Regions from separate parts of the Homo sapiens genome. Here all the other regions are reported to be linked to region 6. The links are microRNA targets in miRTarBase. Many come from high-throughput screens and were not tested one by one. Region 6 holds a microRNA gene; each other region holds the end of a gene's coding sequence.
What was found. Region 6 holds the annotated microRNA hsa-let-7d-5p (AGAGGUAGUAGGUUGCAUAGUU, at 2,299-2,320, shown strand). A microRNA usually pairs through its seed, bases 2 to 8, with sites in the 3' UTR of a target mRNA and lowers its output. Matches are read on the target gene's strand: a 7mer-m8 pairs with bases 2 to 8, a 7mer-A1 pairs with bases 2 to 7 and ends in A, and an 8mer does both.

Region 1 (4,450 bases), not on the chromosome of region 6:
CATGGAGATGTGGAGTAGGCAGTTGTCTACTGAACCCAAAGTTCAGGAGAAAGTTTGAGCTGGAGATAGAAATTCCAGTTTTCAGATGGCATTTAGAGCCAAGAGGCTGGGTATGTTGATGGGGGAGTAAGTGTGGATGCAGGGGAGGAGAGGACTAGAGTCCTGGGCAATCAAGAGTTAAGGCCCAACTTGAAACTTGGCCACTGCTCCCCTGATGGGAGGATGTTCTAGCAGATGCCTCCTTATTGAGGACCCTCCTCAATAAGGGTTCCACGGGCTTCTGCTTCAGGGCAAGTCCCAGGTTGAGATATCCCAGGACTGAAGTGTTGCTTTAATTAGTCTCTGCCCTCTGTCTGTTGGCAGTTTAGCAGCTTAGGGGCAGTGGCTCCTGGTGACTTCCCTCCATTAAGGACCCTGAGGCAGTGATCCAGGTAAGGGTGGGTAAATAAGCATCATTTTCCCCATTCACCTTCTTTCTCACTGTCTTTCAAGGAGCCGGCGCAGCGACACTTCTTCTCCAAGCACGACAACCGTACTTCCTTTGACAAAGTGAGTGCCGAAGACAGGAAGAATGGCAGGCAGTCCCCCAGCCTAAGCTGAAGTCTGGACAGAGCAGATGGTAGGGTGGAGGGGATGACACTGAGGGAGGGCTCCTTATGAAGGCAGAGGAGTGGCTGTCTTCCCCCACAAACTTTCTCCTCTGGGAAACAGCCTATTCCCCCAAACAGAGACATCTCTATGTTGGTTTCCTCTGCCAACTTGCCAGACAATATGCAAGTATCCTGTGGGCCACTAACTTTCTGGGTGCTTCACCTTAGAATGAAAGACATCACTGGGGAGGCAGGCCAAGGAGGCCAGGGTACAGGCCAAGACAGCCAGGCATAGGACAGGTATCACCAAGCAGACTTGGGGTTAGGAGGGGCCCAAGAAGGTGCTTGGTGCCAGGAATGTGGGCCAAGGGCCCATACCGTTGAGGAGGGTCCCTATTGCCTGCTGCAGGGAATCGGAAGGCGGAAGGACCTGGAGCGCCTGTGGCAGCGGCACACCTTCCTGCGCTGGGCACCCTGTGAGATAGAGTTGCGCCAGCAGGGGCCCCTGGAATCTTCTTACCAGGCTGATTTCAGGCCAGGCCCAGGACTCAGTGGCCTCCCCCAGCACCTCATCCACTTTGTGCAGGTCCAGCCTTCCCATACCAGGACCACCTACCAGCAGAACTTCTGCTGCCCATCCCAGGGTGGCCACTATGGCAGCTACAAGGTAGGGCCCCAGGCGCCGGTCACTGACGTACTGCCTGACCTCCCAGGGATCCCAAGACCCAAGCTGCTGCAGCACTACCTTCATGCTGGGGTCTCTGAGTGTCTAAACTGGTCCAGAGCATTAAACAAGGACAGCTGACACAGCAGCCTGTCTGTGCTTGCAGCCCACAATGGGATGTAGCCCAAGAGGCTGAAAGGTAGTAGTAGGCTGCCAGGTCCTGTGCCTGTCTCCCATGGCACTTGTGCCCATGGTGTGTTTCTGTGCTGGGCATGGGAGGTGCTGCTCTGGGATCCCTGCCACTAAGTGAGAAAGGGTAAGGCCTGCAGGAGGCTAAGAGTCCAGGAGGATTGCTATAGCCACATCAGGTGGGTTCCAGGGCCCCAAGTACTACTCTGTTCTTGCAGTAAACCCAGCTGTAGAGAGGAAGATTAGAGGGCAGTCCCCAGCCTAAGTTGAAGTCAGGACAGAGCAGGTGGCAGGGTGAAGGGGGTGACACTGAGGGAGGGCTCCTTATGAAGGCAGCGGAGTGACTAACTTCCCCACAACCTTTCTCCTCTGGGAAACAGCCCATTCCCCCAGAGACATCTCTGTGTTGGTTTCCTCTGCCAGCGTGCCAGACAATGTGCAAATATCCTGTGGGCCACTGACTTTCTAGGTGCTTCACCCTAGAATGAAAGGCATCACTGGGGAAGCAGGTCAAGTACTCAGTTTAGCTATGGGGAAAGCAGACCCCAGAGACCAGTACTAGTGGGCGACAAAGGCTGGAAGAAGGAAGAGTTGGCAGCTTTCTCAGGAGGCAGCTGCCTTTGAGGGGTTTGTTGGGTGGCCACACAGTCCTGTCCAAGAGACGGCTGCCCCACAGCTGAGACAGAAAGAGACTGCCCTGGGCCACAGAACCCACTGCACCACCCCTCCCTGTGGGGGTGAGCAGAGACCCTAAGGAGACACTCTGTAACTTGGATCTGGAGGTCTTCCTAACCTTGTGGTATTCTGTTGTTTTCTGAGCACTTCTCTGGTCATCTTATCCTGCCATCCTTTGGTGACATGTGACAGCCCTTCCTTACTGCCCTAGTGCTCTCTAATCCCCAGGACAGTAAGGAGGCGCTGTCATCACATGTTGCCAAAGAATAAGCTGAGGCTCAGATGGAACAGAAACACCAAATCACTTTGGGAACACCGACCAGATCCAAGAGGCTCCTTCTGGACCCTCATCCCTAGGGGCATTGAGACCCCCAAAGGAAGGCAGGGGCAGTGGAAACAAGGGAGTTCACACCAGGGTCCACACACTAGGTTTTAGCAGCACTTTTACTTCCACATCCAAACTCCCTGGGTCCTCACAACAGCCCTGTGAGGTAGGTAGGGTAGGAAGGTTTCAGAGATCCCCATTTATAGATGAGGATGCTGAGGCACAGAGAGGTGAAGTGACTTGTCCAAGGTCATACAACCAGCAGTGTAGAGGGCTCAAAGCCAGCATTCCTCCACTTGAACTCCTGCGCTCCGGCCCTCTGGCAGTTCCCACATCCTCTCTATTCTCTCTGTGTCCCCCACCCTCTCAACTCTCCTGGGTCTGCAGGGACCCTAAAGGCAGCCTGGCAGCTGAGATTTTTCAGGAATGGCAACTGGGGTAGGCCTGGTCAACTCCAGATAGGAACTGACCCTGAAGAGCATGAGGCCAGCTTTGCTTCTCCCCATTTCCCAGTTGGATGGAAGGCCTAGTAGGTCCCAGGGCAAGGATGGAGCTAGGCATGATTCATGAACGAATGGTGATAAAGGTAGGTGTAAGCATATGTGTGTCCTGCACTAAAGACAAAGGCTCCCCTAACCCAAGGCCCCAAGGCAGTGTTTCAAGTGCTCACCCCCATGCCTCTCTCATCCCACAGAGCCACAGTGAGTGTCCTCAGCAGCAAAAGGAGCCATAGAAATAGCTGCCTCTGGCAATGAGCTGCTCCAGTGGACAGCTCCCACCAAGCCTTCAGACCCCATCACGCAGACACAGTGCCTCCACGGCTTGACTGGGGCCCTGGGCCACACCCCCAATAACAAACAGCCGGGGCCCAGCCTGCAGACTAGAGCAGGAGCAGCGGGCAGTGGGCATGGCAGGCAATGCCTCCCAGCGCCGCCGTGCAAGGCTAAAGCTCTCCACAGAGCCCAAAGGACATGGCTGGTTTCCTGCAAGAAGGAGAGAGAAGGCTGTGAGAGGCACAGGCCGTAGGGACTCCAGGCCCTTCTGCTCCCTAAGCCCAGAGAATAGCCCAGTAGTTATCACCCCAGGATGAGCTATCAGGGCCTTGCTCCTCATTGCCTATGTTCATCATTTGTTCATTCATTTATGTTTCTATATGTTCTCTTGACTGTGCATACAGTGGTCATTTGTCCTGCTGCTGTCTCGTAGACCCTTGCTGGTGCTTGACAGAGCCCCCAGTCACTGAGGAACACCCTGAGTGCTGGGCCAGGCAGACCACATCCTGCCTACTTCATAGATAGGGAAAAGAGCTCACAAAGCCCTGACCCCTGGAGTGCCTGGAGATGGGCAGAAGGTGACACACATGCTGGGGGCTAGTCTTTCCTGTCTTGGGACTCCCTCCTCTCCCCAGCCCCATAGAGACTTACCAAGGCCCCCAATGGCCACAATGTGGCCCCCAAGGGACCCAACCACAAAGTCTGCCCTCTTATCCCTCATGCGCAGGCTGCGGGGCAATTTGGTCCAGGACCCTGCAGGAGAGGGGAGGTCAGATCTAGTCATGTACACACTATGCCCCTCCATCCCACAGAGAGCGGGAGGACAGCCCAGAACAGCCACTGCTCACCATGCTCCAGGTCAAACATCTCCACAGTGTTGACAAAGTGTGGGCGAGAGTAGAAGTTGTGGGGCCCAGGCTGCTGCAGGCCACCCAGGCTAAAGACGCTGCCTTCAGCCATGGCGCAGCCAGCAAAGGCCCGACGGCTGGGTAGGCTTGGATGCCGGGTCCATGTACGGGCCTCCAGATCAAAGGCTTCAAAAGCAGTCACCGGGAGCTTGCCCTGGCGGCCCCCTGTCAATGGAATTGGGGTACCTGGGAAGGAGCCCAGGAGGCTTGGTGGGCTCCTTGCTCACTAGGTTGCTAATCTGCCTGCCTCAGCCTCCCACATCCTGCTGTGTGCACACTTGCACATGAATCATCCACCCTACAGTCCCTCAGGTACTGGGGTTTGG
Region 2 (4,559 bases), not on the chromosome of region 6:
ACTCCCTACCCCTACCATTTGAGACACACAGACACACACATCATTTTACAACATGTTCATTTTATTTTCGTCACCATGGGGTATACCCTTTGGGGTATAAAATGTACTCTACACCCTGTTGGCTATTTTTCTGGGGTTAGACCTCTGGAGACTTTTCAGGTAGCCTTGAGGTTTCTGGCCTTGCCCGGGAATTACTGGCTGCCCAAAGAGAGACTGGAGAAGGTGGTGGTCTCCTTGCCCTTGTGGTCCTACTGTGTCTCATTTTGATTGAGTTCTTTTGGCTGGTCGGAGTGGCTGGATAGTGTTGGCCCACTCCATTCCTCAGGTTTTTTTGAAGCGGTGGTCTTTTAGGGAGAGCCTTTTGTTCCTGGAACTTCCTTGACGGGTCCCTGTTCCCTTCCAGGTTGTCTTGGCAACCTGGAAAACCAACCAGGAGATCAAAGAAGGGCACTGGTTTGGGGAAGAGGATGGAGAAGGGGTGAGAACAGGGGCTTCATAGAGAAATGGGGCAGGGTGGGGTGGGGGTTGTGCCAGGGGAGGACAGGGTAGGATTTAGAGCTTCGGTGGGCCGTTCACTTTGATAGGGCTTCTGGGCTAGGGTTGAGAGGATGCTTTCCACTTCCTCACCTCTTTGGTGTTGGTGGGTGGTTGTTGGACAATGGGCTGGAGGCTCGTGGTTTCCTGGACATCTTCACCAGACCAGTGTCTCTCAACAGTCTACTCCAGTCCACCTGGTCTCTCCATGCCTCCCCCAGGACAGTGAAGGCAGGCCAGCAGGCTAGAAACTCACAGCGCATTTTTATGTTAGTCTTGTGGTAGAATTCCTTTTCCAGGAAACCTTGGTCTTTTCTCTTAACACCTTCAACTAATTGGATGAGGCCTATCCACATTATGGAAGTTAAACTGCTTTACTTAAAGTCAACTGATTGTAAATGTTGATCACATCTACAAAATACCTTCACAGCAACATCTAGACTACTGTTTGACCACACAGCTGAGCAGTATAGCCTAGACAAGTTGACACATAATACTAGCCGTTGCACATATCTTGCACCATACAAAAATGTAACTCAAAATGAGCCACAGACTTTATATGTCACAATTACATTGCTTTTTTTTTCTAGGACAAAACAAAAAAAATTGTGTTACCTGAGGTTATGTCTTAGCTTAGGCTGCCATAACAAAATGCCATTGACTGAGTAGCTGAAACAACAGAAATTTATCTTTTTTCAGTTTTGAAATGTGGAAGTCCCAGATCAAGGACTGGCGGGGTTGTCTTCTGGTGATGGCCTTATTCCTGGCTTGTAGATGGCCCTTTATTAATTTGTCAGTTCTTGGCCTTTCCTCTGTGTATGTGCAGAGAGAGAGAGAGGAAGAGAGAGAGAGAAAGAAAGAGAGAGAGAGAGAGAAGTCATGCAGGCACAAAAGTACTTTCTTCTGTTTCTTCTCCCTTCTTACAATCACACTAATTCTGTGGGATCAAGCTCCCACCCTTATGGCCTCTTTTAACATTAATTACTACCTTAGAAGCCTCATCTCCAAATACTGACACCCTGGGGCTGAGGGTTTCAAAATATGAATTTGGTGGAGGACATAAGCATTAGCAAAGAATAGACACATAGATTAATAAAACAGAATAGAGCTCAGAAATAGACCTGCACACACATAGTCAGGTGATTCACAACAAAGGCAATAATGGTGAAAGTACAGGTTTTCCAACAAAAGGTGCCTGAACAATTAGACACCTATACACAAATTATAATAACCTAGACATATCCTTACATATTGCACGAAAATTAACTCAATACATCATAGACCTGATGAAAAATACAAGAACTATACAACCTCTAAAAGAAAACGTAAGAGAAAATCCACATAACTTTGAGTTTGGTGATGAGTTTTTAAATTCAACACCAAAAGCATGATCAAGGAAAGAAAAATTTGCCAAGTTGATTTTATTAAAATAAAAATTTTATGCTCTTCAAAGGACAATGTTAAGAGAATGAAAACAAGCCACAGTCTAGCAGAAAAAATCTGTGGTACACATATGTGATAAAGAACTTGTCTCTACAATATATACGAATTCTTAAAGCTCAATGATAGAAAAAATGAAAATAGTCAAAGATCTGAACACAATCTACACAAAAGAAGATACACACAGGGCAAATAAGCATAATAAAATACTGAGTGTCCTTTGGCATTAGATAATTGTGTACTAAAGTGAGATACTACTACACACCTATTAGAATGTCTAAAACCCATAAAAAAGCAAAACAAAACCAAGACCAATTGCCAGTGAAGATGTGGAGCAACAGAAACTCCGGGCGTGGTGGAAATTAGAAGTTTAACAAATGGCCGATGGCTGTTATTTCTAATATTTTTAAAGCCTAGGCATTAACACTCTGGGACTTTGTTGTTGTTGTCGTTGTTCTCCAGGAGTCATCAGAAAATATACAGCTCAACAGGACATGGGATAATTAGGCCAAAAAGGAAGCTTCACCTGTAAAATTCAGTTAAGTATTTCCTCTTAGAGAATGCACTTCAAACTTTGTGTGTGCGGGAGTTTTGCCCAGCCAGGTGCAACCCAAAACTCCTAGAATGTGTGTCAAAGACCAATTCCTTCCATCTCTCCCAGCTGCTTTCCCACCCAAACCACTATTTTCATCCATTTTGTTACCATCCAAAATCTGGCCCACGCCTACAATTGGTCAAATTGCACTTGAGATAACCTAGTTAGAATGCCTTTTTAATGGAGTCAGCTCTGGCTCTCCCTGCCTGGCAGAAAAGCACCTGGCCAGTGGCTTCTGGGTCACCCTTCCTGGGAAATTCAGCCTTATCGCTCAGGAAACCCTTGCAGATGATAGATTTTCATCACCTAGATCTTGGGTTGTGTTCAATAGCAGTGGGACAAAAGCACAGGACACCTTCTATTCCAGCCCCAGGTGGAGATTCCTCTCTGTTCATCCCCCATCCGAAATAAACTACTCAGAGTTGCTTTCCATTCCAGGCTTTTCTCTCATTCACTGAGAATCTGTGGGCCCTGGACCCACCCAGCTTCATCAGAGTCAGCTCCTTCAGAAGGAACTGCAGGTTCCCAAAGTCCAAAATGCCCCAGCTCAGGGCATTTACACTCCACAACTCCCTCCTGGAACCCCACACCCTCACCCTTCTCTTATATTTCCTCTACATCTTACAGGACTTCTTGCCACCTTAATTATATGACTGCAGGTCCTAGGCTCTACAACCCTACGGGTAGGCGTGAGTCTTGCTTACCTTAGCATCCGCACTACTAACGCAGAGCCTTCCACAGAGCAGATGCTGAGTGAATGGAAAATAAATGAGCCAGTGAACAGGAAGAATTATTTATTCAGATTTAATTTCTCTTAAATTCTCAAAGAAGCCAAGGATATCCAGGTATCCATGCTTTTTTTTCAAATTTACAGAATAGAGTGAGGTATAAGGCAAGAATTAAGTATCTTTTAACTTCTTGAGGTCTTTATCTCATGTATTTTACTGCTAATTCTTTCACAATTCTAAGCACATACTTTTTCCACTGCTGTTATTTGTCACAATTCACAAAATGGAATGGATTTCCCAATCTGAATAAAAAACAACACTCTTACTCCTAAACTATATAAACAGCACTATGTGTGACTACTGTCATTCATAAACTTGGATGCTGAAGTTCATTCAACCATCCGTTAAAAGGAACATTTGAACAATTCCAACAGGAAACAAAGATAAATCTCAAAGTCATCCAATAGAACAGAAACTCACTACTAACAATACTGACTGCTCTCTTCAAAGAGTGAAGAATGGGCCTCATGTCACACGAGGCAGTGGAAACTAATGGATGGGGCCTTGGAAGGTGCACTGGCCCAGACCCCCTCCCACTGGCCCTGGCTGCAACTCGTGCTCAGACTCACTCTTCCCCCTCTCTAAAAGCCCATTCATGCAGGGGTGGGTAGGAAATGTGAGGTCCTCCACTGATCTTTAGCAAATGGTGCAGGACTTTCACATAGCTGGTTTCAACGAGGGCCCTTGGACCCCACAGGAACTCGTAGCATGCAGGATCACTGCCGGGGACCTGCCGGTACTCCAGGTAGTTTTCCTGCACCAAATCTTGGGTGAGCAGCTTCCTGGGATGCGCAAAGACACTGTCCTCCCTCCCATCAGATGCCTCCAACACACTCAGCTCCTCCCAGATTTTCTCCTCAGGGGCACAGTCGCCCTCTTTTGCGATTATGGCCAGGACGATTATCAGGAGGCCTGTCTTGGGCACGATCTGATTGTCGCCCAGCAGGCCATCGTAGGAGAGGCCCAGGCAGGTGACAAGGATGTACAAGTGGCCGATGCGGACCACTTCCACCACCTCGATGCCAAAGACCAGCTGCAAGTACTCGGAGGCTTTGCTGAAGATCACAGGAAAGAAGTCCTGGAAATTTCTGATGACACTCCCCAGCATTTCTGCCTTTGTGAATGGCTCCCTGGCTCGATACTTGAGGAGCAGAAAATGAACCAACTCAGCCATCTTCCTACTGAGTGCTACTTGGAAGCTC
Region 3 (4,559 bases), not on the chromosome of region 6:
CAGCTTAATTTTTATTGCAAAAGTAATACTTATTCATTATAAGACATTTAAGAAAAATATGGCTAAGCAAGAGGAAAAGTCAAAATTACCCTTATTCCCACAAGTCAGAGGTAAAGGTGTGAAAGTTTTGATGTATATTCTTCCAATTTTTCTCCACGAATAATATTTTTTTATTTTTACATGAAAAGGGTCACAATGGACAGTGTTTGGTGTAATATGGGAGGAGGTTTTCTCACTTAATATATCGTGAACAATTTCCATGTCAATTCCCACATTTTTTCTAATGGCTGAATAGTAACCCACTTGTACTGATGGCTTTATTGAGCCAGTTCTGTAATTATAGGACATCAGGTTCTTTCTCGTGTTTCACTCTTTAATAGAATAGTCCTATAGTTAACGTTTTGTAACATCAATATTTCCTTGCAGTAAACTCCTGGAATTTACTTTTAAGTTGGTAACCATTCCATTTTTCCCATTTTTTAAAAAAGATGTATTTAATTCAAAAATAATAAATAATGACCCTGCTTCTGCCACAGCTGATTTGAGGTGTCTGACAAACCTCGTTGAAACCTGGGCAGAGAAGAAGAAACTAAACGTTAGACTCTAAAGATGTTTTCAAAGAAGGGAGGGCTAAGGAGGGGTGGGAGCCTGGAGAGCCAGGGTGGCAGCGAGAAGGGCTGGACCCCTAGTCTGCAGACCCTCAGCACAGAATGGTTTGTGAAACCTGGGGCAGCTCCGAGCCGTTCTCTGTGCTCGGCTTTTCCAGCTGTGCGGTGGGAGCTGGGGATGTGGCGTGGGCGTGGGAGGCCGCTGGAGTCAGGCGTGGGGAGAGTGGGGGACTATCCAGTGACCCTCTCAATGGGCGCCGGCTCCGTCTCGGCTCCCGGGTTCAGGGACTGCACGTTTCTGAGACCGAGTTTAGGGCTCCAAGGCTCTCTTCCCAAAGAGGGTTTGGGGCCAGCAGGATTGGGTTTTCTGAAGAGGCCTGGTTATGCCAGACTTGGCTTTGGCGGCCGCTGGCGGGTCTCCCTCAGCACCCCCTCTTCTTTCCCCGGCTATAAGAAAGCTAGACCAGGGTGCGCATTCTTCCCGTGCCTAGGATACTTCACGGTGCTAAAAATAGTCCTGGGAGCTGGGACCTGTGTATAGCCAGAGGTTTGTGTGTGAGCGAAGTTGGAGTCCTGGGTTCGAATCTAGATAAGCTTCCCTCCGTGCTGTGGGGCTTAGATCACCTCCCTCCCTGAGTCTGTTTCTCCATGCGCGCCGGAATTTCTAAACGGACTCCCAGAAAGAAACGGAAAGAAAGAAGGTAAAGAAAAGAAAAACAAAACAACAAGAAAGAAACTTTGATTTTTCTCTCTGCTCCTCCCCAAGGGCCCTGGGGCCTCGGGCCGGGTACTGAGGCCGAGGAAGGGGTGCGTCGGACAGGCTCATTACCGCCAAGTGTTGCCCTAGTTAAATCGCGGGCCTGTTTGATCTGGCGGCGGGTGGCGAGAGGGAAAAAAGAAAAAAGTAGGGGGGCGAGAGTAGAGAGAGAAGCTCACACCTCCCCCACTGTTTCCTAGCGCCCATAAAACACCTTTTATTAACTCCTTCGCGTCCGGAAAGGCCCGCGTGGCCTCTCGGCCCCTGCTACGGTGTTTACAGCCAAGACTAATGGGGTCCCATATTCACCCCGACGCTGGGACAAGGCGCCTGGGGCACGCCTGGTGCCCCACGAGGCCCTGCCCCGGAGCTGCCTGAGGTCTCCTTTCTTGTTCCCAAGCCGAGCGCTCAGGCTCCAGGTGCGCAGAGCGAAAGTTCCAAGACAGCCTCACGGGTCTCCCCTCCTCCTTCGCAGTGAGCGCCGCAGACCCTCAGGCGCTGCAGAGCGTGCGCTCCGTGGGGCAACCATGGGAGCTGTTGGGAGACACAGAAGTGCTTAGCGCAGTGCCTAGCACACAGTTGCACGCAACCAAAGTATTCGTACATTATTATTCCTGGAAGTATAAACCACTGCGTTTGCCCGCCCCAGTTTAGCCCAATACGCATCCAAGATCCTTGGCAAATGCACCGAATTTATACCCACCACACCTAGTCATGGGTGCGCATGAGAGAACACAAAGACTGGCTCTCCTGCACAAGTGCCCGAATGAGCACGCATACACACATACACCCCATCCCTTTGCACAAATCCATATGCTCTCACAACCTTCTGTCGAGTGCTTCGTTGCTAAAGAGAAACCTAAATACCTCAATTTAACATATAAGCACTCACAAGCTTATTTTACTCAGGTATAAAATAATAATAGCTGCTGTGACTTGTCAAGTCCTTACTGTGTGCTTGGAGCTGTACTAAGCAGACCCTTGTTGGCCCCTGCACAGCCTCAGGCTCCGTATGAGTTGCTGCACTGTCACATGTACATCTATATGTTGAGAATTTCACATACATGAACATATTCCCCACCAACACCCCCTCTCCTGAGCTACCCTGCCCCAGGGATAGGATTCACCTGTGTGCTAGGCCCCCTTCCCTCCCAATAAACACTCCAAACCACTCTTTGCAGACACCAGTGGGCATACTAACCTCCAGACAAGCACGAATACTCAACGCACAAAAACCCGAGCCCAGGCCCTCTGAGACTAATTCGTTTCCGTTTTTGTTCTTCCCCGTTCCCATAAGTTACCCCCACCTCCCGTTCTAGTCTAAAGAGAACTTTGCTCTTGTTCTTGAAATACATTCTTTATCTGCCGGCTTCCCTTGATTTCAAGTTTGGTTTCGTGTTTATCAAAAGAAGAGGAGCAGGAACAGAGGCTTTCCACCTAGCAGAAGCCATGGGAGTCGGTGAGGGACCCCGGTTGAGACATGACACAGGCTTCAGATGATTTCAGAAAATGTTTTATTAATCAAGAGCATAGACACTGCTTTGGCGAAGGGAGGGGGGCTGTGAGTGGTCACACAGACTTGAGGTAGAAAAGGGTTGGGGATGGCAGGATGAACAAACACCTGAGCACAACAGGCATGGTAGGTAGTTTAAATACATAAAAACTTTCCAACACAGGGAAAGCTTTTATTTAGATAGAAACAAAAAGGAAGGAAAAGAAGGAAGAAAAGAGAGAGACAGAGAAAGAGAGAAAGTGTTTCCCTTGGAACTAAACAGGAAGTGCAGCGACAAAAAGAAAAATAAAATAAAACCACCACGATTCGAAGAACAAAGGGCAGCCTTTCATCTTCCTGCGTCTGGTTCTCTTTCTCAGGCAGAAAAGAATTGATTCCTTATTGCATTTTAATTAGAGAAGACGGCGTCGGGGCGGATCATATGGAGGGACAAGAGAGAAAGAGCCAGATAGGGAAATGGAGATAGGGCTGAGGTTCTAAATTCGCTCCAAAAGGGTGGAAGAGTGCGTCTTTGAGCCCTTGGGTTCGACAGTCCCTCCTTCTTGCATGTTGCCGCCAAGGGCCGCCCTCGGTTGGGCTGGGGGTGGATATATATATATTTCTCTTTCTCTTAATGTATTAAAAAAAATCAAAGGACATTGCACGTGCGATCCAAGTGTGTGGTTGCAGCCGACGACCTGCCGGCGCTCAGCAGAAGCTCCGCGGGATGCGTAGCACCAGTCGCCGGAGCCCAGAGCCTGGCGTTCGCCGCTGCCTTCCTCTCCTCCCGGGGCTTCAGGAGTGGCTGGCCTGGCCAGGTCCTCGGCGCGGGCCTCGGCTCACTGGTTTAACTCCAGCGCCCAGACTTGCTGCGGCCAGCCGGTGCGTCCTTTAATCCTCTTCTCGACTGGGCCCAGGGCAGGAGGAAAACCTTCGTGCTGCTGCTGCCAAAGGACACACAGAAGAAAAGAGGCGGGAGAGACAGGTTTTAATTTTTCTGCTCCGATCGCCCGGCATGGGGTAAGATGAGGAGGAGGGGAAGGTGTCGGGAGCAGTAACTGGGAGTCTTTAAATAAGTGACGGATTTCTGTTTGCGAAATAGGCAAACAGGCTCGTAAATTTGCCTTTATGCGCGGAGTTCCTGGGACCCGGGATGGGCTGGGCAGCTTCGGGAGGTTTGGTAAGGAAAATGTTCTGCGTCTGGTGAAACTGACGCGCGTTGATTTGGCTTTAGGACACCTAAGGGAGATCCCAGGATATTGGAAGGGAGGGGTGGAAATCCACGGTTCTCCCGCTCTCGCTGCACCCCACACACTTCCGCCAGCCTCCCAACCTGGTTTAAACATCAGGGCTTGGATGCAGGCTTGGGGCCCCCTAAGCCGGAGCTGGGAGCCTCAGATACGGAGGTAAAAGAGCGGGGAGTCGAGCTGGCCTAGCGTCCTCCTTCCCGCTCTTTCAGCAGGAACCAAGCGGTGCTACTTGAAGGAGGCGGCGACGCGTGGGGGCCGGGATCCGCCCAATAACAACTTCTTTCGAGGCGCCGCACCTCGAAAGAAGCCGGCCTGCACCATCCCCAGTCCGGGGCAGCCGTTTAGAGACTCGATGCCTATTTATCTTTCCCTCGTCCCTGGATGAGCTTTCGTCAGTTTACCACAGGCCCCCGCAGGTTGGATAAACCAGGTGGGGCGCTTCAGCTGGCTCC
Region 4 (4,000 bases), not on the chromosome of region 6:
ATGGGAAGCGGTCTCGAGCAGAAGCCCCACTGAAGTGTCCCCTGGCAGACACCCACATGAACTCTTCCGAGAAACTCCAGTTCTATAAAGAGAAAGCCCCAGATTGCCATGGGCCAGTGTTGAAACACGAAGCTATCTCAAGCCAGGAGTCAAAGAAGAGCAAGAAGAGACCTTTTGAGGAGTCAGAGACAGAACAGAATAACTCTTCACAACCTTCAAAGCAGAAATATGTATGTCTTGCTGTGGAAGACTGGGACTTGTTAAATTCCTATTGATTAGTAGATACAAGTTGACCTTTCTCTGGCCCCCAGCTCTAGTGTTTGAGTAAAGGAGACTGAGGATGATTTACTTTTTGTTTGAATTTACCTATGGCATTAGCATAGTAAGCAGATATTTCTACTTTTGTGGTGTGGGAGGGGAATGCTATGGAAGTATGTAATAATTTCTAATGTATATTTTCAATACATAGTAATTTTTTCAAATAAACATTTTTGCTGTCCTTAAGTTCTGCTTGTGGATTATAGACTGGAGCCACAGGAAATAACACGGTTTGGGATGGAAGGCCAGGTGAACTAACAAGGCAGCTTAGCATAACTCAGAGATACTGCAGGTTTGGTTCCAGACCACTGCAGTAAAGCAAACACTGCAATAAAGTGAGTCACCAGACTCTTTCATTTCCTAGTGCATATAACAGTTATGTTTACACTATATAGCAGTCTCTTAGATGTGCAATAGCATTATCTCCAAAAAGAAAAAACATGTATATACCCTCATTTTAAAATACTTTATTGCTAAAGAAAATGCTAACAATTATCTGAGCCTTTAGCAAGTTACATTCGTTTTGTTGGTGGTTGGGGGGTCTTGCCTTTGTTGGTGGATGGATGCTAACTAATCAGGGTGGTGGTTGCTGAAGGTTGGAGTGGCTATGGAAATTTCTTAAAATAAGACAATGAAGTTTGCCACATTGATTGACTCTTCCTTTTGTAAAAGATTTTGCTAGAGCACACGATGTGGTTTGATAGCATTTTACCTACAATAGAACTTCTTTCAAAATTGGAGTCAGTCCCCTCAAACCCTGCTGCTGCTTTATCAACTAAGTCTATGTAATAGTCTCAGTCCTTTGTTATTTCAACAATGGTTACATCTTTACCAGGAGTAGATTCCATTTCAAGAAACTACTTTCTTTGCTCATCCATAAGAAGTAAGTCCTCATCCTTTCAAGTTTTATCATGAGATTGCAGCAGTTCAGTCCTATCTTCAGGCTCCACTTCTAGCTTTCTTGCTATTTCTACCACATCTGCAGTTTCTTCCTCCACTGAAGTTTTGAACCCCTCAAAATCATGAGGGTTGGATTCAACTTCTTTCAAACCCTTGTTAATGTTGATTTTTTTTTTTTTTTTTTTTTTTTTTTTTTTTTTTTGAGACAGAATCTTACTCTGTGGCCCAGGCTGGAGTACAATGGCATGATCTCGGCTCACTGCAACCTCTGCCTCCTAGGTTCAAGTGATTCTCCTGCCTCAACCTCCCAAGTAGCTGGGATTACAGGCGCATGCCACCACGCCTGGCTAATTTTTATATTTTTAGTAGAGATGGGGTTTCACCATCTTGGCCAGGCTGGTCTTGAACTCCTGACCTCAAGTGATCCACCTGCCTCAGCCTCCCAAAGTGCTAGGATTACAGGAGTGAGCCACCACACCCGGCCCTAATGTTGATATTTTGACCTCTTCCTATGAATCACAAAATGTTCTTAATGGCATCTAGAATGGTGAGTCTTTTCTAGGAGGGAAAGTTTAGTTTTGTTTTTTGAGACAGGGTCTTGCTCTGTTGCCCAGGCTGGAGTGCAGTGGTGTGATCATAGCTCACTGCAGCCTCGACCTTCCAGGCTCAGGTGGTCCTCCCACCTCAGCCTCCCAAGTAGCTGGGACTACAGGCACATGCCATTGTCACACCTGGCTGATTTTTGTATCTTTTGTAGGGATAGGGTCTCACCATGTTGCCCAGGTTGGTCTCCTGGGTTCAAGAGATCTGCCCACCTCAGCTCCCAAAGTGCTAGTATTACAGGCGTGAGCCACTGCACCTGGCCTCCAAGAGGTTTTTAATTTACTTATTTACTTTGTCCAGATCCATTAGAGAAGTCACTGTCTATGGCAGCTATTGCTTTGTGAAATGTATTTAATAATAAGACCTGAAAGTTGAAATTACTCCAGATCCATATGCTGCAGAATAGGTGTTATGGTAGCAGGCATGAAAACAACATTCATCTTGTAAGTTTTTGGGTGATCAGGTATATTGTCTATGAGCAGAAATATTTTGAAAGTGCCTCTAATTTGTGGACTACACATTGAGTAGCAAAGCTCTAGACCTTTACTGTCCAATATGTAGCTCCTAGCTACATGTAGCTATTAAATACTCGAAATGTGGCTAGTCCAAATTGAGATGTGCTATAAAATACACACTGGATATCAGATATCAAAGACTTAGTATCTAAAAGTTTGAATGAAAAATGTCTCAGCCAGGCGTGGTGGCTCGCGCCTGTAATCCCAGCACTTTGGGAGGCCAAGGCGGGCGGATCATGAGGTCAGGAGATCGAGACTATCCTGGCTAATATGGTGAAACCCCGTCTCTACTGAAAATACAAAAAATTAGCCGGGTGTGGTGGCATGCACCTGTAATTCCAGCTACTTGGGAGGCTGAGGCAGGAGAATCGCTTGAACCCGGAGGGCAGAGGTCATAGTGAGCTGAGATTGTGCCACTGCACTCCAGCCTGGTGACACAGCAAGACTCTGTCTCAAAAAAAAAAAAGTCTCCATTTTGAAATACTGGTTACATGTTAAAATGGTAATTTAAAATAATTTCACCTGTTTTTATTTTTCTAATACGGCTACTAGAAAGTTTAAAATCACATTCATGGCTTGCATTTGTGATTGCATTATATTTTTACTGGACAGGACTGCTCTAGACCGTATTCATCTTTAAAAGGTGAGCTAAAAGCAAGAGTTACTGGCAAGTAAAAGGAAGGGAGAAAATACCTCAAGAAATTGACAACATTAGTTTGACATTTGTAAGTGCTCTGGAGTTTAATGAGGATTTTATTTATTATTTATTCATTATTGTTTTTTAACTTTTAGGTTCAAGGGTACTTACGGAGATTTGTCATATAGGTAACTTGCGTCTCATGGGGGACTGGTGTATAGATTACCTCGTCACCCAGGTAATAAGCGTAGTTAGTACCCAATAGGTAGTTTTTCGATCCTCTCCCTCCACCCTCAACAGGCCCCAGTGTCTGTGGTTCCTTTCTTTGTATCCATGTGTACTCAGTGTTTAGCTCCCACTTACAAGTGAGAACATGCAGTATGTGGTTTTCTGTTTAATCAGGATTTTAATAAAGGTAGATCTTAGATAAAATATGTGTTAATTGCTACTCTGAGCTAGGCAAGGTACTACCTCTTTAAAGGTGGGCTGTTACCCAGGATCATATCAAAAGCTTGATTTCTGAAATTTATAAAATGAAAAAGCGAATACAGTGCTGATTGGTTTTCTCTGTAACAAAGTAGAGTTTTAAAATATCATTTGAGGCCGGGCACGGTGCCTCACGCCTGTAATCCCAGCACTTTCGTAGGCGAAGGCGGGCGGATCACTTGAGGTCAGGAGTTCAAGACCAGCCTGGCCAACATGGTGAAACCCCGTCTCTACTAAAAATACAAAAATTAGCCAGGCATGGTGGTGTGTGCCTATAATCCCAGCTGCTCAGGAGGCTGAGGCAGGAGAATTGCTTGAACCCGGGAGGCGGAGGTTGCAGTGAGCCGAAATTGCGCCACTGCATTCCAGCCTGGGCGGCAGAGCGAGACTCCATCTTTAAAAAAAAAAAAAAAATCATTTGAGTGGACAGTAGCACTCTGTCAAATTCCAAATGCCAATCAACAGCTGGCTCTACTTGTCAAAGTTGGCATATTATTGTTAGTCAAACCAGAGTCCAATTTGATCACCCCCTCATGCACAC
Region 5 (4,559 bases), not on the chromosome of region 6:
TACTCTGATTTTTTTTTTTAAAGAGATGAGCCCAGCGCTTTGGAAGGCCAAGGCAGGGGGATCACTTGGGCCCAGGAGTTTGAGGCCATCATGGACAACATAGCAAGACCGCGTTTCTAGAAAAATAAAAATAAAAAAATTAGCTGGGTGAGGTGGCATGTCCCTGTAGTCCCAGATACTTGGGAGAGTTAGGCGGAAGGATCTCTTGAGTCTACGAGTTCAGGGCTGTAGTGAGCTATGATCACAGCTCTGTACTCCAGTCTGCGCAACAGAGTGAGACCCTGTTTCTTAAAAAAAAAAAAAAAAAAAAAAAAAAAAAAGATGTGGTCTCAGTAAGTTGCTCAGGCTGGTCTCTAACTCCTGGATTCAAGGAATCCTCCCACCTCAGCTTCCAAAGTAGCTGGGACTACACGCACATGCCACCATGCCGTCTTGATAATGTTTTTTAAATTTTAAAAATAATTGTTTTTTGAAATGGTATCTCACTCTATAGCCCAGGCTAGAGTGCAGTGGCATAATCTCGGCTCACTGCAACTCCACTTCCCGGGTTCAAGCAATCCTCCTTCCTCAGCCTCCTGAGTAGCTGGGACTACAGATGCCTGCCACCGCAACTGGCTACTTTTTGTATTATTAGTAGAGATGGGGTTTCACCATGTTGGCCAGGCTGGCCTTGAACTCCTGACCTCAGGTGATCCACCTGCCTTGGCCTCCCAAAGTGCTGGGATTATAGGCGTTGAGCCACTGCACTCAACCAAATCTTTTTTTTTTTTTTTTTCGTAGACAGGGTCTCACTATGTTGCCCAGGCTGGTCTTGAACTCCTGGCCTCAAGCCATCCTCCTGATTCGGCTTCCCAAAGTGCTGGGATTACAGGTGTGAGCCACTGCGCCTGGCTTATTTTCTGTAGTTACTACTGGAATTGGATCTTTGGTCTCTTACATTTTCCAACTCTCGCTCTACCGCTATATTGGGAAACTGTTCACTGTTGTTTACTTTTTCAACTTAACTGGTGATCAGGCTCCTTAGGTAACAGAACTTACTCATCCAACAACTTCCCAGGGGCTCTCGTGTTTGGGGGCGGCCCCTGGTCCTGGTCGGGGCGCTCCTCTCATTCCCACCCAGCCTCACTATTGCGGAAGGAAACCCTGCGGCCCATGTCCTGCCCTCTGGGACACTGGGTGCTGATTGACGGCAACCCTGACCGTGGGCACCTCCCCAGTCCAGGAGATGGTGTGGGTTGTGGTGGCTTCACCCACCTACACTTAAAAAAACAAAAAGCTACTCAGGAAGCTGAGGCAGGAGGATTGTTTGAGCCTAGGAGGTGGAGGTTGCAGTGAGCCAAGATCGTCCCACTCCAGCCTTAGCAACAGAGCCAGTCTCAACTAAAGAAAAAAGTGTCTCAGGTACCGTGCCATGGCTTCATGAGAACTGATGTAACCCCCGACTCTGGGCAGGGCTGCCAAAGAGTGAGAGAGTGGAGACTCTCTCTCACCACTCACTTCCTGGCAGCTACTTTTCTGGATGCATGGGCAGGTCCCCTACACATGAGATGGTGTGGGTTGTGGTGGCTTCACCCACCTACACTTAAACGAAAAGCTACTCAAGAGGTTGAGGCAGGAAGATCGCTTGAGCCTAGCAGGCGGGAGGTTGCAGCGAGCCAAGATCACCCCACTCCAGCCTTATCAACAGAGCCAGTCTCAAAGAAAAAATTAACTGTCTCGGGTACTGTGCCATGGCTGCATGAGGACTGATAAAATACCCGACTCTGGGCAGGGGTACCAAAGAGTGAGTGGAGACTCTCTCTCACCACTCACTTCCTGGCAGCTACTTTTCTGGGTGCACAGGCAGGTCCACTGCACATGGTAACAGCCTGCCGACTCTGGAAACACAGTTCAGGATCCCAGTCCTAGTGCACTGGTCAGACTTTCAAATAAGCGAATAACGTTGTGGGCAGCCTGTTTTGTTCGCTTTGCTGGCTTTACAGGGTACTTCCTGTTGGCCTGAAATACAATGTTGGTAAAGACAGTTTTTCTGTGGCCTTTCTCTGTTGTGGAGGATTTGTTGTTTTTAAATTACGATTCAGGACTGAACTGTATCATAGAATGTCCTTCTTTCAGAATGCTTTGTGCCAAAACAAGAAACCTCAGAATTACATGTTAATAACAACAAACAAAACAAAAAAGACCAATAGGCAGAAGGCAAGAAACAAAAACTATTCTTTGTAGATGGTGTCATTTTACCAAAAGTTAACAGAACTAAACCAACAAACTATTGAAAATTAACAACAGTGAGATGACTATACAAATATATAATTAAAAATAACTTTCCCATGTAAAAGCAATAATCAACTATAAAAATATAATGGAAAAAACTACAATAACAAAATTGTGTAAAACAAGTGAAGAAAATTAGAAAAATTTTCACAGGAATATAATACTCTAATAAATAGAAAGGCATGTTTCTGGATGGGAAACATACACTATAATTTTTCCCAAATAGCTTATAGGATTTCTTTATTCCAATCAAAACACCAATGTATAACTTTTGGAAACCTAAAGCAAGCAAAACTGAAGAATCCCTAAATCGCACCACACGATCAGTCCGTAAAGGCACCGCTGGCCTTGCTTCTAGGCAGAGGACAGGAAGGTATGGATATCAAGAGGCTGAAGACAATTAATACCCACTACAATGAAGACACCTGGAAACCTGTCTCTTGAGAGGCAATGTGAGCTAACCACTGGAGACGTAATTTCTAATCATACAACACTTTGCCTTGTGAGGTAGTGACCACCCCATTGCCAAAGGTCTGATGACAGCATAGAGGGGACCTAAGCATATGGTAAGGTTATTGATGAGACATGGATCCAAGCCAACTTTTTCCTGCCTCCAGGTTGACCCTTCCTCTCTGGGTCTTGGGGTTTCCTTCGTAGCACATGAGATCTGGGCTCAACAGAGGGACAAGATTCTGAAGAGCTTTTCTAGTGGTGGGGCTGGATGGCCCTGCCTGAGTAATCCAAACTTCTTTTAGCAAGGGAGAAGCATGAGACGGCTGCTGGAGAGATCAACAGCAGAACAAAATACAATAAGAACAGTAGACACCTAAATTATGTTGTGAAAAGGAATCTGTAAAAGTCAGTTTTATCACAAATTGTAAATATTATTGAAATTGATTGCAAATTTAGATCACATACAAATGAGAGTCTGACATTCAACTGTTTTCCTATATTCCAAAGTAAACAATTCCTTTCAACACTCAAGACTTAAACAGGTATTCTTAGAGGGTTATATGAATTGCTATCAGAAGCTGTTGGCTAACAAGCCAGTAATTTGGTTCTTTCACCAGAACACAGTTCCAGATAAGCATCTTTGCACTATTTCTCAAGTATGAATCCCCATGTGGGGGGAAAACGGATATACTTTCAATAGACACAAGTCACTCTTTGCCTTCCAAGTAAGCAGACTCCAGATTCATCTTCAAAGTGTTGGGAAAGGGGATCTGTGACCTGTACATTATCATATAACTTCAAAAAGGAAAGCTCCTTAGTCCAAAAAGCCTAGATGCTGAGGTATAGCCCTTGAAATGTTTTCTTCCCTGTGAATTTTCTAGCAATTTGAGGTTTTAGCTAAGATGGGCATTTATCCAATTTTGGCAATAATGAGATTTTTACACATTTATACCTTTTTAGGCAGCTTGGGAATTCAGAACTACTTATGAAAGCTCTCAGGTTGAGGCAGCACCATCAGACCCAGAAAGGGTTCCCAGTATTACTTCTGCTTTCGGGTCTTACAGGCTGAGTGGGTTTTCTCATGCCGGGTACAGTTTGACAGCCGACCAAATCTTCTCCCACATTTTTTGCAACCATATGGTCTCTCAGCCTCATGACTCTGCAGATGAAGCACAAACTCCTCATTCTTTGGGAAGGTTTTCCCACATTCTGGACACTTAAATATCTTCTCCCTTATATGGATTCCTTCATGACGACTCCGATGAGAATTCTGACGGAAGTTTTTTCCACACTGAGAACAGGAATAAGGTTTCTCTCCTGTATGAATTCGCTCATGTTTATTGAGGTTTGTTTTATGATTGAAGCTTTTCCCACAGTGATTACAGTCATAGGGTTTTTCTCCAGTGTGGGTCCTCTGGTGGGAAATGAGGTAAGAACTTTCATTAAACTGTTTCCCACACAGTGGACAAGTGTACCATCTCCTTGTCCTCCGATTTCGAGTAAGGGCAATAATACTGATGTCTACATATTTTGAGAGTTCCTCTAGAGGAGTATCATTCTCAATGGTAACTAACAGATTTCTCATTTTCCTTTTTTGTGGAATGGATGTATTTAGTCGTTCCTTTTCCTGGTTATCGGGAGGCTGCTGAGAGACCAAGGAAGAATCCATTTCATCATCATCTGAAGACTTTTCTCTATAATCTTCATTTTCTACAGGTTCCCTCTCAGGATCTTCACCTTCAGGATTACTGCCATTGACTGCTGAAACAAAGAGAGAATTTAACAACTTCTGAGAGATATCACAACACCAGGCAGGAAAAAACAAGTCAGGTTTC
Region 6 (4,492 bases):
AGTAGTACAGTAGGCACAGATTAACATTTAAATTTTTCACATATGGTATATTTCAGAAATTTGAAGTTAAGCAAAAATTTTAATGAGTAGAGAAAGTAAGTAGCCTTCAGGAAATCTTCATAGAGGACCAGGCCCTTTTGGAATTGTGAATAGGTTTATTGCCTTACATCCTGGTACACATGTCCAAGGTCAGGTCCTGGGTGGTAAAGGTAAATACAAATTGGAAGGGCACTGTGTGAGCCAAAATGAGTCAGATTAGTCATGATTCATTTCCAGTTTGGGTTTTGGGTGGTCTTGGAGAATGTTGTAAGCACTGCTTCATTGATAGGTTGATTGAGCCAGACTTTACTCAGCAGCCTGGAAAAGGAGAGATGGGCTCTGGGTTCTACCTTTGCTCACTGGTAAGTTGCTAAGATTTCAGCTTTGCCCTCAAACCCTGAAGTAGTCCTTCATTCACACAGTGGGATCACTCGAAAATGTCAGATGGGGAAGTCCATAGGTTGTTACTTTAAAGAAAATAGAAAAAATGCTGGAAAAGGTTTCTTCAATTTTAATACCCATGAAGGCCCATGTTTTAGCTTTCCTCCGATGGGCAAACCATACACTAACTTGGGCCTTGTAATCAACAAGCAAGGCTAAAAGCTCTCTAAGTGCTTGCTGTTTAAACTATTTTGTGTTGGAAGAAGAGTTGGAAAAGAGGCAGTGTGGAGGTGAGGGAGAAGTTCCCTCCCTCCAATCATTTCCAATAAATGGAAATTTAAGGAGAAATTTGTGTTTATCCTTAATATCTAAGATAATCACTGTGCAGTGCCATTGGTACTTTTCATGAGAGTAGAAACATCAAACTTCCTTGGATGGGCCCAACCCAGGTGACTTAACTCTGGACCAAATGTATGCTTTTTGTTTTATCCACTGTGGACAGCTGCATAGATAATTGGTCTTTGTTCTAAACTGCACATAAAAACATGGGAGAAAATGACATTTGTTGCCTTTTGATGTGCCAAAGAAGAGTGGGAATGTTCTAAGAATTCTTTTTGGCTTAATCTTTGTTGAATTGAAAATATGTATAACTCTTCTGCTGAAAGTGTAGCAAGTACAGTCATGAAATTTTGTGGTCTTCCTGACATGTTCTTCCAGCATAACGTTGCCACCTTCAGTTGGAAACGTATCCTTATCTAATAATTAAGCCCTGGAGAAAAATTAATTTATATATTTTATTAATTACATAAGGACATTGTTATTAGCTAAGCAGAGTAAGTAAATCGAAATAAAACTTTAAAAATGCCTTTATGGAGAGAATGACTATCTCTGAAAGCTTGTTTTTAATGATGATAAAATTCATGATCAGAATTTGTTTCTGTTTGCTTTAATTCAGGGGTCAAAAACTGAAATACCATCAGAGGCCCAGGAGGGGCTAGTTGTAACTGGCAAATATAGTAAATTAATTTGCTCTGGTTGATAGGTAGCAAGCAGGGTTTATATACATTGTCACCTACTTTTCCAGTTAACAGGAGAGACTGGAGATTTTATGAAATTTGATATTTAAATGTTGGTAACTGGGTTGGGCACCATGGCTCACACCTCTAATCCCAGCACTTCGGGAGGCTGAGGCGGGTGGAGCACCTGAGGTCAGGAGTTAAAGACCATCCTGACCAGCCTGGTGAAACACAGTCTCTAATAAAGATACAAAAATTAGGCCGGGTGTGGTGGCTCATGCCGGTAATCCCAGCACTTTGGGGAGGCCAAGGTGGGCGGATCACCTGAGTCAGGAGTTTGAGACCAGCCTGCCTAAATGGTGAAAACCTGTTTCTACTAAAAATACAAAAAAGTAGCTGGGCGTGGTGGTGGGCGCCTGTAATCCCAGCTACTCTGGGGGCTGAGGCAGGAGAATCACTTAAACCCAGGAGGCAGAGGTTGCAGTGAGCCGAGATCACACCACTGTACTCCAGCCTGGGTGACAGAGCGAGACTGTCCAAAAAAAAAATTGATAATTAAATGTTAAAAGTCAGCGACTCCAGTAATACGTGGTGGGCTGAGTATTAGACTACTGGCTTACATCCTCTGATGTCATTACTTTCTTGTTCGTTTGTGACTTGAGGTTGGATTTTAAGCAAATGTATTTGTGGCTTTTTACCAAGGTCATATGGCCAGATAACTTTTCAAAAGCATTAGTTAAAGAATTCTGATTAGTTTGAATTAGAAACAAAACTCAAAGAACATGACCTAATTTAACAGGTTAATTTGAAGTGCATCTGCCAAGTAGAAGACCAGCAAGAAAAAAAAAATGGGTTCCTAGGAAGAGGTAGTAGGTTGCATAGTTTTAGGGCAGGGATTTTGCCCACAAGGAGGTAACTATACGACCTGCTGCCTTTCTTAGGGCCTTATTATTCACCGATAACCTGTTTCCTTGCTACTTTGCTTTGGTGTAAGCAGAGTTCTTTCTGTAGGTTTTTTCAAATGAAAACATTGCAAGAATATCAAAGAGAGCAGTGTTTGCGTTAGTGATTATAAACTGCAGCATGGTGCTGACATTGATAACTGAAAGTCAACTAATGAGAATTTGAGACTTCTGAAGTACACTTAGTTGCTAGTGTCTCCCTTTTGGTGTCACTGGAAAGTTTAGAAAGCATGGTTTTGTTTTTGCTCAGGTTTCTCTTTCTGTGATGCAGAGACTCTCAGCTGTTCCTCCTCTATGTCTACATTATGTCTGAAGGAAAGAATTTAACAAAACTTGAAATACTGCTGTTTTTCTACAATGTTTGTAAATATTTATCTTGCTGCTTTTCTAGGTTTGTCTTCTGGATTTAAAATTTGGGGCGGCTGGGGTGGAATTGCATGGTTTGGGAATGGGTAATTGAGCTGCTGCTCATTATGGTATGTAACAGTGATTTGTCTGTTTAATATGTACAAGAACTGGAAGGTCAATAAAATGAAAGTGGTTGTCTTGACTGGGTAATAGTGTTACATATTTTGTTAAAAGTTATACATCTTTTCAATAAAAACACTGCATACTTCAAAACTAGTGCTTTTTAAGTCATCCTTAACCCTTATCCCCATCCTTGCAGTAGTAGATGCATTTTTCATTTGTAATTATTATGATTTGTTCTTAGTTTCATTTTTCATTAGCAATAATTTGGTGATTGGATGGTCATTTACAGATGTTTTAATAAAGCTAACACGAGCAATTTCCAGCTCTTCCATTTTTGTAAACACTTGTGTGACTTTGTACAGACAATTAACTGCTCAGGATCACCCTCCTTTTTGTTTTGTTTTTGAGATGGTCTCATTCCGTCACCCATGCTGGAGTGTAGTGAAATGATCACAGCTCACTGCAGCCTTGACCTCCCGGACTCAAGCTTCCTAGTAACTGGGACTACAGGTGCATACAACCATGCCTGGCTAATTTTATTTTTGTAGAGACGGTTTCACCATATTGCCCAGACTGGTCTTGAACTCCTGATTATCCTCTGGCTTTTACCTCCCAAAGTGCTGGCCAGGACAGCCTCCTTTCTTTACTTGAGTAATTATTTGAGTTTGCTCAGGCAGACACTACCTTGTAAAAACTCTTATGTCTCATTTCACTAGTCTAGTTTGAGCATTTATCATTCTAGGAATGAGACGAATTTGTGCATTAGCATTCCATCTTTTTCCAACTACTATGAACAGTAGTATTTTTTTTTATTTTATTTTATTTTTTGAGACAAAATCTCACTGTTTCCCAGGCTAGAGTGCAGTGGTGTGATCTCAGCTCACTGCTGCAACCTCCACCTCCTGGGTAGAGTAGACAGGATTTAGGTAATTTTTTGTATTTTTATTAGAGACAGGGTTTCACTATGTTGGCCAGGCTGGTCTTGAACTCCTGGCCTCAAGTGATCCACCGGCCGTGGCCTTCCAGAGTGCTGGGATTACAGGTGTGAACCACCCTTGCCTGATCATGAGCAGTAATACATTTAAAAGTCTCCAGGGGTGAGAAAGTTGAAAGGAAATTCAGTGGAGTTTCCCATCCTGCCCCTCTGCTGCCTAGCCCCTTGCTCCAGTGGAAGGAAGAATCGTGATCTAGGGATGTTCTCATACTTGGGGCTTTAAATTTCCTTTATGAATTGAGATGGTTGGGTATGTTTTCTAAGGTACCTTACATGGTACAGTTCTTTAAAGTTGAAGATTTAAGTTGTGGCAAAATTGCATCAATTTCATGTGCACTGATTTAGGCGAAGATGCGTAGGAAAAGAGCAAGGAAATGAGGTGTGATAGGATTGGGGTAATTTCAAAATGAGTATTTCTGCCTGGCCTAGTGGTTCACGCCTGTAATCACAGCACTTTGGGAGGCCAAGGCAGGCAGATCCCCTGAGGTCAAGAGTTCGAGACCAGCCTGGCCAACATGATGAAACCCCATCTTACTAAAAAAAAGTAGCTGGCATGGTGGTGGGCTACTTGTGAGGCTGATGTAAGGAGAACCGCTTGAACCAGGGAGGTGGAGGTTGCAGTGACCAGA
Region 7 (4,559 bases), not on the chromosome of region 6:
GGTTTGCAATGTATTGGAACTGTTAACTTATAATTCTCTAATATGTACAGTTATTATGTATCTTCACTACAGTTTCTAGCAATTGAGTGATACTCTCTACATATACATTTATTTGATATTGAGGCAAAGCAAAGAATAACATATTCAGAGGATCCTAAAATCACATTTTAGAGAGTTACTTTCTTGTCTAAATCTTTCTCTAGAGTTGCCAGTAAACAGAAAAAGTTAATTTCTTTTTCTTTCTCTGCCTGCTTTCACCTGTGATTGCTAATAATTATGCATTAGGAGAAATAGGTGGACAGCAATAAAAATGAGATCTAAGTGATCCATAAATAGGTCTTCAAGCCTGTCTTGGTATTTGAAGTACCTAGAGTGTTGCCTGGCACAAAGTAATGAGTCAGTAGATTTTCGTTGAGTGGTTAGATAGATTGATAACCAAGCCAGTCATTAAAATCGTATTGCTCTCTGGGATGGCCAAGTCTAAAATCTCCTTAAATTGTGCTAAATTAAGATTCTGCAGCTCATCCTGACAGTCAAACTGCATTGATTACCGCAATATTGGTAATAACAGAGAGTTGTATTGTTTTCTAAGTGATGAATTGACATATATACATGTTACACTTTTGTTTCTGAAGGAAGTAGAAATTCGGAACAAAGACCTGGAGGGACAACTGTCTGACTTAGAGCAACGTCTGGAGAAAAGTCAGAATGAACAAGAAGCTTTTCGCAATAACCTGAAGACACTCTTAGAAATTCTGGATGGAAAGATATTTGAACTAACAGAATTACGAGATAACTTGGCCAAGCTACTAGAATGCAGCTAAGGAAAGTGAAATTTCAGTGCCAATTAATTAAAAGATACACTGTCTCTCTTCATAGGACTGTTTAGGCTCTGCATCAAGATTGCACAAAAAAAAAAAAAAAAAAATTGAATATCACTCCTCCAGGAGGAGGATCTTTTGAAATTGGAATTGTATATTTCACTGTAAATTTTAGAATCCAGCTTGTAGCTAGTTGGGGAAAAAAGATGAAAAACTTGAACTACAAATTACCTCCATGTATATTATTGGCCATAGTTAACTAGAAAGTTATAAATAGACACTTAATGCAATCTTTTTTCCTGATATTAGCCAATGGGAGAATTAACAATGTCTAGGTCACATCCCCTTTTTGTGTTCAACACAGTGAAGATTATCTGCTTTTTAAATTAATTTATTTACGATATCTAGAGCTGTGTTTTGTGCAAAAACTTAGTGATGAAAGCCTGTCTTTTGTTGTAATCTGAATAATTTCTCAGGATATTTTTGCACTGCTGAGAAGCAGTGCCATTACCAATTAATTCTTGCCAGGAGTGAGAGAGAGCTGTATCTTTAATTGAAATATACTATAACTGGGTGTATAGAGTTCTTCCCTTTTTTGTGCTGGAAGATATTTCACTCTGGTGACTACTCTGGTACACTCTGGTGTTCTCTAATCTTGTCTGTTGTATAGTTTACTTTTCCATATTGATTCCATGTATTTATGAGAAGATATTGTCTCCCATTTTATTACACATTTTAAAGCCAACTAACGAAGGCAGCTGAGTCCCTCAGAAATTTTTCTTTTTAAGTTTCTAATAAATTTGACACACAGTACTGAAATACAGCAGCCCGTCATTGACAGGCTGGTCTAGCAATGTTAAGTATATTTACAGAATATGCAGTTACATTTATTTATATATTTTGCAAGAAATCTTTTCTGAATGATCAATGCATTTCAATTTACGAATAATAATGGTTATTGGGGAACTGTTTATTATAGATAATTTTAAGGTGTATAGCTATTTTAAAGGGGGTCCATTTACATCAAACAGCTGATCAGAGGACTCTATCTAAATTGTGATCGTGGCAGATAGAGATGGAGTCATGTACTCTATCTGGCTCTACACATCAATCACATCTTGATTCAAACCTCACAAGGCAATATTCTGAATTGTTAACTAGGTATTTCAAAACAGGAATTAAATTCAATAGGCTCTTCTCAGTGAACAGGTTTTAATGTTGTTTTGATGTAATTTTAAAAGACTTTTAGCAAACATGCATTTCTTTATATGATATATTTCTTTTACGAAGCTATTTTAAAAGTAAGCCAAGTGCTGTCTAGTCTGCTTATAAAGTAGGAATTGCATCAGAGTACATATATTCTTGCTGTACAATGCCTGTGATGTTGAGGAGGGTTCTTTTTTAAAGTGTATGCTTGAGTAACTGACTCTATGGAGTCTATAAATGCACTGACTTCTTGTTTGTACCCCAAAATGATCGAATTGTTAAGTACAAAATTAAGCTAATTAACCAATTTGTAACCATTTTTTCACTCATAAACAGCTACTCAATACTAGACAATTTTGTTTTTTATGTATGTGTATGTACGTAAATACATACATATTAATTTACATTAGAGTGAAAAATAAATGGTTTGTTTCTGAAGTTAGTTTCTTAAGTGAGTTTTCAGGTGTCTCTGAAAAATTTATAACAATCATGTATTATATGTGCTGTAACATCATGTACGTTACCTCCATCTATTTTAGGATATTTTCCTCACCTATATATTATAGGGAGAATAATTTAGATACACATGCTCAGAGCTGAGATATTTCTCTGATAAATCAGGTAACAAAATGTATTTGATTGATGGAATTTTGAAGTAAATGTGTTTTTATCCATCAGTTTCTGAGTAACAAAGAGCACCAAGTTTTAATTTAAATAGGAGATTTAACACTAGGGATCAGGGAGTTTAGTATGAAGAGTTAAAAAAATTTAAAAAACAGTGTAAGCTGTTGAAATGGCAAGTGAATTATTTTAATGATGTAATAAAATATTTTTAAATTTTGACATAGTGATCATTTAATGAAAAAACTCACCAAAATGTCTCCATTTGAATTGTATTGATAATGTGGGACATATGTGTGATTCAATATATACATATACCCATATGTATATACAGAAAATTATTTTTAATACTTTCCTACTGATAATGAAATTTAAAATTGGAAATTTTGTGAGTGTTTTTCTTGTCCAATAGAGCCTAATTGTTTCCTTTTTTAGTGATTTAACAATCTCTTGAGGGCTGCACCTTTAAATTCCCAGATTGTCAATAGACATGTACAGTATATGGGATAAGGTGGACACAAGTGCACATATAAATAAAATCTTCTTAAGACTTTTAACTATTCATTTACAGTAGGAGAGTATGTAGAAATCATCATCCACAAGTCATAATTAGGTTGTGTGCCTACTGTAGTTTTTTCCATTTCTGTATTATATAAACATTTGCATATTAAAATTTGATTTTTCCCAGAGACAAGTATTATATACTGTATCTATATTTAAATCAAACTGTGGTAATATATTTCTCAGAAAATAATGTTGGGGACTATAGCCTGAACATGTGGACTTGAAGCGACATGGAGGAGGAGGTTGATCCCATTGTGTATAAGTTAATATGTGATAACTATTGAATCTTGTACAAAAACAAAAATTGAAAAAAAAAAAGAAAAGCAAAAATACAGTTTTTATTTTGAAATACATTTGTTCTCTGGAGAATGTACTTTATCTTTTTTTCCTCCAGTCTTTTACAGATATTTAAAAGCATTTAAATGATGACAGCATTTACTTAAATCTTTCAGGTGCTACTGGATTTTGCATTAGTGTGTTATGTTGTGAAATCCTAACTTTGACATAAAAGGTTTTATAAGTATTCCCCTGCCTGGAAAATTAGTTTTTGTTCTCCTCTCTCTCTCTTTCTCTTTTCCACTTTCTTTCTGCAGACTAAAACATGCTCACGAAGTTGCATCTCTCCTTGTCTCTATAGAAGATCTCCAGCACCATCATAGATTTGATGTTCTGCTGTCATTGAACTGTTGGGAAGCAGTTAGAGGAAAAGCTCACTTTTTTTTTCAGGTGGAAATAAAAGGAACACTCAAAATTAAGCCAACACCACCACTACCTTTAAAAACTAGTTTATTTGCCCTGTTAAAATTAAATGTATTCTTTAACATGTGGGCTACAGTCTCCCATGTTTTTATTTAACTGAAGCATATACACTTCGGTCATTTATCTCCTTGTGGTCCTGATTTTGTCAGTACTGGAATGGGAGGCAGGTCGGGGAAAGTTTGTTTGATGGCAGTGGATTCTTATTGTTGTTTTAACCATTGCATTTATTTGATATCAAATGATTTTGACATCCTGAAATTCTGTGCTTGAAGTCATGAAATGATTTTCATTGAATTTTTGCCTCCTAAATGTATAGCATGAAGTAAATTAATTTATACAAAATCTTAAGAAACCTTTCAGGTAAGAAGTAGTTGAGATTGACACTGTTAGAAAATTTCTCAATTTCTAAATTTAGAAATTACTAGAAAAGGAAAGGATGTGTCATTCACCTTACTCCAAATTGCGAAAGTGTGTTTTTTCCTAATATTCGTGTTAAATTTTACCTTAAAATTTTTATGATAGTTTTTCTTCATGAGAAACTGATATATAGATGTCACGCAAATACAAGCAAAGTTACTGAATTAAAGT

Region 1: the mRNA of KLHDC8B is a reported target of hsa-let-7d-5p. Seed matches in the 3' UTR shown: 8mer at 2,606-2,613.
Region 2: the mRNA of MAGEA12 is a reported target of hsa-let-7d-5p. Seed matches in the 3' UTR shown: 7mer-A1 at 3,451-3,457.
Region 3: the mRNA of HAND1 is a reported target of hsa-let-7d-5p. Seed matches in the 3' UTR shown: 8mer at 2,946-2,953.
Region 4: miRTarBase lists LRRC42 as a target of hsa-let-7d-5p. The part of its 3' UTR that is shown has no 7-base or 8-base seed match.
Region 5: miRTarBase lists ZNF200 as a target of hsa-let-7d-5p. Seed matches in the 3' UTR shown: 7mer-A1 at 3,561-3,567 and 8mer at 2,775-2,782.
Region 7: the mRNA of HOMER1 is a reported target of hsa-let-7d-5p. The part of its 3' UTR that is shown has no 7-base or 8-base seed match.

What each region holds. Positions count from the first base shown.
Region 1 is chr3:49,174,581-49,179,030 of GRCh38, reverse strand. It overlaps KLHDC8B (kelch domain containing 8B), which reads right to left. Exons shown (of 6, transcript NM_173546.3): 4 at 4,065-4,289; 5 at 3,868-3,969; 6 at 2,545-3,426. The coding sequence ends at 3,230. CIMIP7 (ciliary microtubule inner protein 7) reads left to right here. Exons shown (of 4, transcript NM_001080528.3): 3 at 493-549; 4 at 979-1,397. The coding sequence ends at 1,395. Among named protein-coding and RNA genes, the nearest start is that of KLHDC8B, 5.2 kb to the right of the region's middle.
Region 2 is chrX:152,736,470-152,741,028 of GRCh38, reverse strand. MAGEA12 (MAGE family member A12) reads right to left here. Exons shown (of 3, transcript NM_001166387.4): 3 at 3,360-4,559. The coding sequence ends at 3,923. It also overlaps the pseudogene CSAG4. Among named protein-coding and RNA genes, the nearest start is that of MAGEA12, 5.0 kb to the right of the region's middle.
Region 3 is chr5:154,472,110-154,476,668 of GRCh38, forward strand. It overlaps HAND1 (heart and neural crest derivatives expressed 1), which reads right to left. Exons shown (of 2, transcript NM_004821.3): 2 at 2,863-3,801. The coding sequence ends at 3,697. Among named protein-coding and RNA genes, the nearest start is that of HAND1, 3.8 kb to the right of the region's middle. RefSeq lists enhancers at 324-1,295, 1,296-2,267, 3,938-4,559 and a silencer at 3,596-3,783.
Region 4 is chr1:53,967,665-53,971,664 of GRCh38, forward strand. It overlaps LRRC42 (leucine rich repeat containing 42), which reads left to right. Exons shown (of 9, transcript NM_001256409.2): 9 at 1-504. The coding sequence ends at 275. Among named protein-coding and RNA genes, the nearest start is that of LRRC42, 23 kb to the left of the region's middle.
Region 5 is chr16:3,220,129-3,224,687 of GRCh38, forward strand. It overlaps ZNF200 (zinc finger protein 200), which reads right to left. Exons shown (of 5, transcript NM_198088.3): 5 at 2,197-4,485. The coding sequence ends at 3,764. Among named protein-coding and RNA genes, the nearest start is that of ZNF200, 13 kb to the right of the region's middle.
Region 6 is chr9:94,176,543-94,181,034 of GRCh38, forward strand. MIRLET7D (microRNA let-7d) reads left to right here and starts at 2,292; the gene lies at 2,292-2,378. MIRLET7A1HG (miRlet-7a-1/let-7f-1/let-7d cluster host gene) reads left to right here. Exons shown (of 5, transcript NR_170278.1): 3 at 3,278-3,379. LINC02603 (long intergenic non-protein coding RNA 2603) reads right to left here. Exons shown (of 3, transcript NR_160773.1): 3 at 27-1,189. RefSeq lists an enhancer at 2,703-2,752.
Region 7 is chr5:79,372,274-79,376,832 of GRCh38, reverse strand. It overlaps HOMER1 (homer scaffold protein 1), which reads left to right. Exons shown (of 9, transcript NM_004272.5): 9 at 636-4,197. The coding sequence ends at 824. Among named protein-coding and RNA genes, the nearest start is that of JMY, 140 kb to the right of the region's middle.